2 separate regions of the Homo sapiens genome follow, and region 2 is linked to region 1. A link means that fine-mapping ties the variant in region 1 to the expression of a gene that starts in the linked region. Tissue or cell type: atrial appendage. Region 1 holds a variant in brackets; the other region holds the start of a gene. All regions are shown on one strand. Distances are from middle to middle.

Region 1 (5,133 bases):
AGCACCCCTTGAACTAGGTATCTTGGCTTGGGATCTTGTAGGTAATACGAATTTGAATCCCAGATCTATCTGAGGGAAAGCCTTTATTACTAATGTCCAATGAAGCCTTCCCCACCACCCCCCCGCATCTAGAGCCTAGGTGGATCATTTTCTAGTACGTGCCTTCATCAAGATTATAACCCTTTCAGGTTCCCAGCTGGATGTGGAGTGTCACTCCCAGCTACTCACATTGCATGGGCCTAGGTCTTGTCTCCTGTCCTTCATGTCGCTCTTAAGTATCTTGACAGCAAGGTCCACTAATGCCCACAGTGCTCTTACAGTTTTGCTTTTGTTTACCCCTCTGCTTGCACAGTTTATTTTTCAACTTGTCCATGAGGAATTTCCCTTCCATTTTTGTGAGCTTAGATCTATATTTAAAAGGATATTTCTATTAAGGAAAATCATGTGACTAGCCAATGGAGTAAGAAAGTCAGTGATGCGTGAAGCTTGCAAGTCCTGCTCTTAAAGAAAAGGAGAATTCCGAGTTCCCTCTGCTAACTCTTTTCCATCCTTCCCACTAGCTGGAATGCCGATAGGGTAGGGAGCCATTTTGATGAGACCAACAGACCAATAATGAGAACACTCTAGGGATATCACAGCAACAAGGCAGAAGGAGCCTGGGCTCCTGACAGCTTCACAGAGCAGAGCTGCAGCTCCAGTTTTGGCTTTTGGACTAGAAATAAATTTCTGATTGTTTAACCACTGTTACTGAAAGTCACTGTCATACTAGTTAATACTATATAATAATATAGCAGGTTTTTAATATGGAAAAGTTAAGAAAGAACATAAGTATAACCAGAGATGATTATGGTGTAGTGAGGAGGTGTCCAGAAAGAAGATTTTAGGGATCTTCAAGCTGTCCTCTGGCTGTTCCACAGTTTTTTTTCAAGGGCTAGCCTTGCTGTTTGCAGAAATGTTTGTCTAACAGAATGCACTAGTGTGAATTTGTGATCCTTTATATATTTGCATTTGCAGAGTTTATACTCATAGGCTCTCTATTTTTCCTTAGCAAATATCCACATTTAATTAGCTTCCCCAGAGGGAATTATGTAGTCATAATTACTGCCTCATATTCTGAAGAGGAAGGTGTGGGTGCCTGAAAGGCATGACATTAAAATGTTTTCTCCAGAAGGTGTACTTTTTTCATCTAAAGTAAAACTCTTTCCAAAAGATACGTTTGCTATTAAGTATCAGCACTTCTTTAAATAATATAAATTAAAGACTGGTAGAAAGAAATATAAACAATTACGCGTGCCCATTCCGAGAACCATCCTAGTTTACTCTTATGCAGCACTGGCTAATCTAGCTTTTGTATCTTCACAGAATTAAGGAAATGGAGATGAGTTGTAATAAATACAGTGACTCATGACATTCATTTATCAATAAATTGGTTTTTATTCAGCAATAACAAGTTACTAAATGAGCTAGGTTCTGAGGAGAGAGCAAAACTTTTTAAGACACAATCTCTGTTTTGAGATATTTATAGTATTTCTATACTATACACAATCTCTGTTTTGAGAAATACTATACACAATCTCTGTTTTGAGATATTTTAGTTACAATATGTAACTAAAACATGATCTTAAATAAATACAACATAGATAAAAAATGACAAATGTCAGAAAGGAATGGATGAGTGCTCTGTGAGTTCACTGCTCAGCGTTGCCCTATCCCTCTGATTATAACAGCACTTGCTTCTTGGTATAATTTTTAGCCAGATCTAAGGTCTTCAGGGTCCTTAGATCTTAGATCTTCAGGATACTTAGCGCTTGGTTCAGCTCTCTTGAATGTCTTCCCTTTTCCTAACACTGAAAAGAAAAAGCCTTTCTTTTATTTCAAAAACAACAACACAAAGTTGGAACAGCTTAAACCATCACTTGTGGTGGCTTTCGAAATGAATAAGCCATGAATACTGCTTCTGAGTTATCATAACCACTAGGAGCTACAAACAAACAAAAACCTGAATCAATAGTTAACGTCACAGTGAAATAACGTCTCGTTTCTTCTTTCTAGAGGGAACTGCACAAGACACTTCATTCTCTTTAATCTGCTCTACCC[C/T]GTCATATACCATTGTTTATGATGCTAACAATTATGATGGTGCAATAGCACACTCAGTGACTCATCAGCTCCCGCCTTCCAGAGGCACTCAGCTCTCACATACGCGGTGAGTAATGGCTCATAGAGACGTTGCTTAATATCTGTAATCAGTTTTAGTCTGATGCAATTCTCAAAATGCATCCTTCTTTTCCAATAAATGATAAATTATAAGGCTATTGTCTGGCAAAGAGAGTCATTTTTCCCAGCCAAAGATTTATTTCCCAACCAAGCTGCTTTTGAATCCTTGAATGTCACTTTTAGCTGTTTCCAATCCTCTAAACAAGTATCTGCCAATCACCTGGACGTGTGAGAGGCAACGCTAGGGTATATAGTTATTTAGTGTGAAATGTTGCCATCAGAATTGAAGAGACGGTCTGTCTAAATCTGAAGGGGTGGCAAGAAGGAATTGAGGAGGCTATGGAAGGGGGGAAAAAAGGAATGAGTAGGAAAAATGTCATACAGGCACAATGAGGCAGAAAATTTCATATGACTTCATCAATCTGGGCTAACCAACAAAAAATTATGGTTTTTTAAAATGAGGCTAAAGTCTTTGAATTATCCTTGGAAAAGAATTTCCTAAGTAAAGAAAAACTGTAAATGAGATTGCAAAGAGGCTCTTTAATCTGCACCTAAAAATTCTTTACATCTTCTAGTGGTGTCTGTTTGCAAAAGCAAAGATATTTCTTGCTTTCTTGTCCGCCAAAGCAGCCCTCTCCAGCAAGTCTCACTTGACAATTTTCCATTAACCACCATTTTTTGTCACTGCACGATATAATAGAATAGAATTTAAAGATTGCATAATTCGGGTTTCTCACTACAGAATTATTTTGGATTAGCTATCTGTTAGCTCATTTAGGATGAATATGTTAATAATTATTATTTTGTAGCTCTACAATATTACTTTGGTCAGCACCTTGCCGATGAAGAGTAACAATATAGGTAGTAAAAGGACCTCAGAATATTTACAGAATTAGGCAGGGTGTTTTTGGTCACAGATGGATGCCTGGACTTCAGTGTCACTTCCATTGCTCAAGGTTCCATGAGCCCAACACAGTCATAGGTTTGATGGGGCACTGGAAATTATCACCTCACTTGATGTTCAGTTTTATCATCTTTTCATTTTCTTACTACCTTCTAGCCACTATTTTATAATGATTTTCAAAGCTTTGTCTTTCTCTACCTCTTCCATTTAGTCATTTCCCACAAGATCCATTTCCCTTCCTGTTCTACATTTTCTTCCCGGTGATAGCACCACTTCCATCGTTGCAGAGGGCCAGACTTTTTAATCACTCTGCTGATGGCTGTTAAGTCTATACTTCCTGACTTAACCTGGCTTCTGAGCCTCAGCTATATTTCCAACTGGAAGTTTCTACCTGCATGTGTCCCACAGGCACCCAAAACTTGGTGTAATTGAACTAAACACATCGGCTCCTTCTGCCCTTAAACTCGTTCCTCCTTTGTTCCTTGAGTGACACCATCAGACGCAGTTGCTTCAGCTAAAGACTCCCCCCATTTCTTACCATCTGATTGTTAAGTCAGATCAATTTTATCTTCAAAGTATCTCCAAGGTGTCTCTCCAGTGTACCATTCTCATAATTTGAACTAGAAACTCCTTACATAGCTGTCAATTCTCCTTACAACCTGATCCCAACTAATCATTCCGGTCTTATAGCTCACCCATTACTCTACCACACACCTCAATGCTATGTAATTATGTGACTATGGAACCCTTCTCATGTTTGTTAATCTCTCAATACCTCAACTTTCTCCTCTGTAAAATAGGGAGAATAATAAGCCCTACCCTAGAAATTTGTCTTGAGAATTACAGGAGACAATAGATGTAAAGTATTCAGTATAGTACCTGGCCCAACCAAAGCATTATATGTGTAATCTCCTCTTCTTTCTCCCCTTTTTGCCCTCTTCTTTCTCCTCCTTCTTCTTCCAAGTGTATAGTATGTAATCTGTCAAGAATTTATTTTACTTATTTAATTATTATTTTATTATTTATTTATTAAAATCTTTATTTTGGCATAAACTAAAATGAAAACATTATCTACATAAAACTTGACCCTTTAACCATATCACATTCTATGATCTAAGTCTCCGGTTTTCCCCAAACAGCAGTAACTATACTACAAAATTTATAATTATAACTACTTTTAGGGAAATAGTGGTGAACAAACCAGCCAACAGATGTGTAAGCAGAAAAACCTTCCTCCCTATCCTCCCCACTACCACTCTAGAAGATTTCCAAACAGCCCAGTAGAGTTGCCACTTTGTCACATAGAACCAGAAAAGGCCAGCAGGGTCAGGATACCAATACCTCATGGACATTAAAATATCACTGGAAATGGAACAGAATAGAAAAGATTTTGTATTTAACAAGATTCCTTTCAGGGAGAGTTAATGGTAGTAGTGGTAGCAGAGGCAAAGGTAGGGGTAAAGTGTGGGGTCCCCAAAGCACATGCTTGAGTAACAATAAATGCTTGCCATGTCATCTTCTAAGATTTGTAGGTAGATGGGCTTTGTAGGGTAAGACTTTGGGTTTTCTGAATGGCAAATGTGATTTCGTGGCTGAAGCTGAATTGTTGCAGACTAATGCTTTTCAAACTTCTGTACACATCAGCATCTCCCAGAGGGTTTGTTAACACATAGTGCTGGGCCTCCCTCCAGAGTTTCTGATCCAGCAGCTCTGGGATGAGGCCCAGGAATCTGAATTTCTAGGGGCTTCTCAGATGAGGATGAAGTTGTCGATGTGGAGAACATACTTTGAAAACCATTGAGAAGATGCCGATCCTGCCAATGCCAGCAGTCCTACTCTGCTGCTTCTCCACCCTAAACATCGTATTTTTTAAAGAGAATCAGTTTGATGAATGACATGTTATTAGCATTCTTGATATTCCTAACTACTAATTCTTTCAGAGTACCTGCATGTCTGGATCCAGCCGTGACTACCAACTAATAAATAATAAAGCCACTAGTTTCCTCTCTTCCTCT
Region 2 (4,566 bases), 62 kb before region 1:
TAAGTAAATAAGTAAGCAAGTAAATGAATTTTTAAAAATGTAATTTGTTCTAAGGGATAAGAACATTTGCTCACATTTCCAAGTAATTGGACATCACCAGACTACTTAATTCCACACATTTTCCTATTCTCACCCTTTATATATAAAAATAATTATTAATTATTTGTGAAGTTAAGGAATAATTCAGAGCCCTTGTCTTTCTAACTGTTTGGAACAGGTGTGTTGTAGAGCATACTATTTTTATAGTAGTAATTTTTTGATAATTTTAAATAATATTGATTTTCATATCTGATTCTAAAAGTAATATATATTGTTTTGGAAGATTTGGAAAAATTTAAAAATTGAAGAAGAAAATAAGATTACTCATACAAGTTGAGCATCCCAAATCTAAAAGCCCAAAATCTGAAAAGCTCCAAATCCAAAACTTTTTTAGTGCCCACAAGATGCTTAAAGGATATGTTCATTGGAGCATATTGGATTTTGGATTTTTGAATTTGGGAGGCTCAACTGGCAAAGATAATGTAAATTTTCCAGAATCAAAAAAAAAAAATCTGGAATTCAAAACACTTCTGGTCCCAAGCATTTTGGATAAGGCATACTCAACTTGCATCTAACTATCCATAATTATTGTTAGCATTTGGTTGATTTCCTTTTATTTGTTTATTTATTTATATGTTTTTTTGAGACAGAGTCTCACTCTATCATCCAGGCTGGAGCACAGTGGTGCGACTATAGCTCACCGCAGTCTTGAACTCCTGGGCTCAAGCCATCCTCCCACCTCAGCCTCCTGAGTAGCTGGGACTACAGGTACACACCCCACACCCAATTATTTTTTAAATTGTTAGTAGAGATAAGATCTCCCTATGTTCCCTGGGCTGGTCTCAAACTCCTGGGCTCAAGTTATCCTGCACCTCAGGCTCCCAAAGTGCTGGGATTACAGGTATGAGGCACCATGCTGAGCTTCACTTTCCTTTTATTTATTTATTTTTTTTTTCTGTGTACATTGTGTGTAATTTTAGAAAAGGGAGATCATAATTTATACATTTTGTGCACTTTCTCAGATCATTAAATATTCCTTAAAAATATGATTTTTAGTGGCAGTGTAGTATGCCTTTACGTCATTCTCCACTTCTTGCAATTTAGATGTGCAATTTTATAGCATTGTACTATAAAACTATTAAACTTGTCATGTTTCCACTTGCCTGAGAAAGATACAGAATAATAGAGTCACATTTGCTATGATTAAGTCTCCTTTCCTGGTGATTTAGGGTTTAGAGTCTGAAGTGTGTATAATAATATGAATTTAACAATCCAGCAAGAATAGACATATTGGAATAGGTTGCCAAATCACAAAGTGCAAACCCAGAGTATTTTCCCCTCTGCTTACTCCTTTGTCTTTGTTAGCAGTGTGAATTACTGAATGATAGAAAGTAAGACCACAGCAAATCAAACATAGTAACAATCTGCTAAACGTAGATTATTATTAATACCTGCACGTATATTAACTGAAGAAAATAAACTGTAATAGAGGCTGTATGGCCTTTAGAACTAGAAAGACTTGAGTTTCTTTCCTTCTGTAAGCCTCAGCCCTCTCATCCTTAAGACAGCAGTTACAATGCCTACCTCACTGGGTGTTTGATTCACTGAAATCGTGAATATAGAATGCTCTCACTTTATGCCAGTTTCTTCTCTCTCTACCCGACCTTCACGCATGTTCATGCACACAAACACATGCACACTCATAGGTTCATAAACATACACATGCTTAAGGAGTATTGTAATACATGTGGAGACTGATTTGAGTTCACACATCGAAGGTTCCATTCTTCCAGAAGAGAAATTTATTAGGAAAACATTAGTCAACATCTCTGTGTGTACTGTTTCTGCTATATAAATGTCTAAATTAAACTGTAAATATTTTAGTCAGTACTGCTTTCCTTTAATGTGCACTCCAGAAACCATACCAACCAAGATATACTCCTGTAATATTCTCTGTGATTGACACCTACGCTCTATCCTGTACTCAAATCATTTCAATATCCCTCCTCCCATTTTCCAGATCTGTAGAACAGAGAATAAATATGCTTCAAGCTGGAAAGATTTCTTCTCTCCTCAAATAGCATAAAGAAATGACTGATGCTCTTTCTTATGGCAACAATTCATGTGTGCTTTTCTGGGGCTACTGCTGAATAAATTTATCTTACCTATTCAAGTGGCCTATACCTGATAAAATTTGATTAAAATACTCATGGAATTCAGGGAGAGAAACATCTACAAAATAATATATCTGAAACAAAAAGACAGATTTGCCTAAAAAGAACTTACCCTATACTGTAGTTCCCCCACTTTTAAAAGCTGCCATTCCTATTCAGTGTAGTTTTCTTACGCGGACTCTGTTTATATGCTGGTGGTGGTGGTGGAAGTCTGTTGATAAGCTGATATCCAAGCAACATCATGTGATGAAACAAAGAGCTGGGGAAATCTGGCTGCATGCCTTTCTTCACTTCTGGGTAACATTCAGCTACACAGTTTGATATTTTTTCTTCCACATTTTGTGTCTAATCAAGTGTCATCTTCTAAATCTACCATATCTGTGTTACATGCAGATATCGGGGGTAACATGCATAGAGGCAGAGATTCTAAATATTAAAGGTCAACAAATCCATCAGGGCAATGGGCCATGACATAAATATTTCCAAAATTTGGAGTCAGTAGTCCCCTTCCTCATTGCTCAGGATGATGAAGGAAGAGTTCCTGAATATAGAGGTATGGGCATGAATTTGCCTGTGGTAACCTATGAAATTATTCCATAGTTTAAGCTAAGTTCCCTTTCATTTTGTGGGGGAATAAGATATTCTCCATATTTTATCTTAATTAGAGGCTACATATGATGATAATTAACCTGTGGCGTAAGACTAGAGCCCACACTGACCTCATCCTTTCTTCTGTGATAGCATTATTCTACTGGCTTCCTTTCTTTCTCAAGTGTCCTCCTTCTGAATGCCAGCTTATCTGCAAAGATGAAGAGTTCCTAAAGAAAAGGGAAGAAGAAATATCAAAAGAAAATACATTCAAAATTCTTAGGAGACTAAGGGGAAGAAAAAAGCAGGGAGATGAGAGTGATGAATCATATGCCTTAAAGAAGAAAGGGCTCAACAGATGCAAAAGTCTTGCATTTTTTCCCCAGTAATTTGAATGCAGACCTCCTGGGAAATAAGCACAGCACAAACAAGTGTCTTTAAATGCCAGTAAATAACATAAAATCTTTCACTGGATCTGAGAGGTTGATGATTCTTTACCAAGAGATAAAGAACAGTGGTGTGCAGAGTTGACATTGTCAATCGAGTCTTCCTCAAACGTTTTTCCAGGATATGATGAAATTCATTCTGGGTGCACTGCATCTGCTGATGTTGCACACACATGCTGAAATTCCTACCAGCTTGCCTTGGACGCTACTCAATCAGGAGAACAGTAACAGATCTGTGTTTGACAGAGGGCATTTAATGTAAGGAATCTGTTATGAAAATATAGAAATGGGTTAGAGGAGTAAAACAAGAAGGGTTAGGTTATCCAAGGACTGGCAATTGCACTAAACTGTGATTGCACATAGAGCTGGAGGACAATAGGGAAAATGATTTTACCCACAGCCCATGGACACTGTGCCATAGAGGCTGCTTCCTTTGGAGAACTGCTGCCTGAGCAGCGCCTCAGGAACCTGTGCTCACCAGGCACCCTTGCTTCTATGTTCTTGCCCAAACTGCTAATCTTGCTGTTGCTGTCACCACTGTTGCTGTCCATGTGGCTGCTGCTGCTGGCACTGCCACAGGTGCAAGCAGAAAGTATTTTTAAAAAATGGCTTCTTCCCTCCAGCCTTCATTCATGTCCTGCCCTCCATTGGATGCCAGCTAGCAAGGGATTTTGGGAAATGTATTTTGCAGTCTTCCTACTACTCTGATAAACAGAAGGGTATAGAAGAATCAACATGAGGCCGACAGATGGTGGACACTCTCTAACACAAACACAAATCTAAGAGGTACCTTTGGGACCTATGAAGTCAGGCAGGAGGATGAAGGACTTAGACATACAGTCAATGTTTACCTAACATCACTGAAAGTTGTCAATTTATAAGAAAAGAGGAAATAAGATAAAACTAGCTATGTAGATGGTATCAAAGAATGAGATCTAAATTTGTAGACATATTTTAAAATATAAGAATGAGGGAGTAATGCATATCCTAAGTTTGGGACAAAAAATGTTTTCCCAAAGACTAGTTTAACATTTCAAAAAGGATTTAAACTGATTACAAAAAAAATGGGAAAGAAACACCCATAATCTAATTACTATAGGGAATACAATGTCAACTATTAGTAGAAAAGTTGTACTATTTCACAGTTAAAATATTGGTACAGCAATGAGACTCACTGCTTAAGACATTGGCTGTTTAGAAGGTGGGTGATAAAGTGTTTTCATGGAATATCAGGGTAAATGTGACCTCATGAGTGATACCAAGTGAGGAAGAGGGACTCCTGATTGGAATCCAAGATGAAGTTAAACTCTAATTCAAAG

Alleles and levels. Positions count from the first base shown, and alleles are read on the strand shown. Sizes are in standard deviations (SD) of each study's normalised expression.
As copies of T replace C in region 1, the expression in atrial appendage of the gene that starts at base 2,406 in region 2 goes up (small effect, 0.35 SD a copy in GTEx).

What was found. PIP is the estimated chance that this variant, and not a neighbour inherited with it, causes the effect. A credible set is the group of variants that fine-mapping cannot tell apart.
Region 2: FAM216B starts here. The variant in region 1 is the best candidate, but not a certain one, in a credible set for the expression of FAM216B in atrial appendage (GTEx, PIP 0.81).

What each region holds. Positions count from the first base shown.
Region 1 is chr13:42,717,621-42,722,753 of GRCh38, reverse strand. LOC124903164 reads left to right here. Exons shown (of 3, transcript XM_047430822.1): 2 at 2,053-2,203. Among named protein-coding and RNA genes, the nearest start is that of FAM216B, 61 kb to the left of the region's middle. RefSeq lists an enhancer at 2,073-2,122. The variant C/T (reference allele first, on the strand shown) is at 2,098.
Region 2 is chr13:42,779,424-42,783,989 of GRCh38, reverse strand. FAM216B (family with sequence similarity 216 member B) reads right to left here and starts at 2,406. Exons shown (of 4, transcript NM_001318932.2): 1 at 2,326-2,406.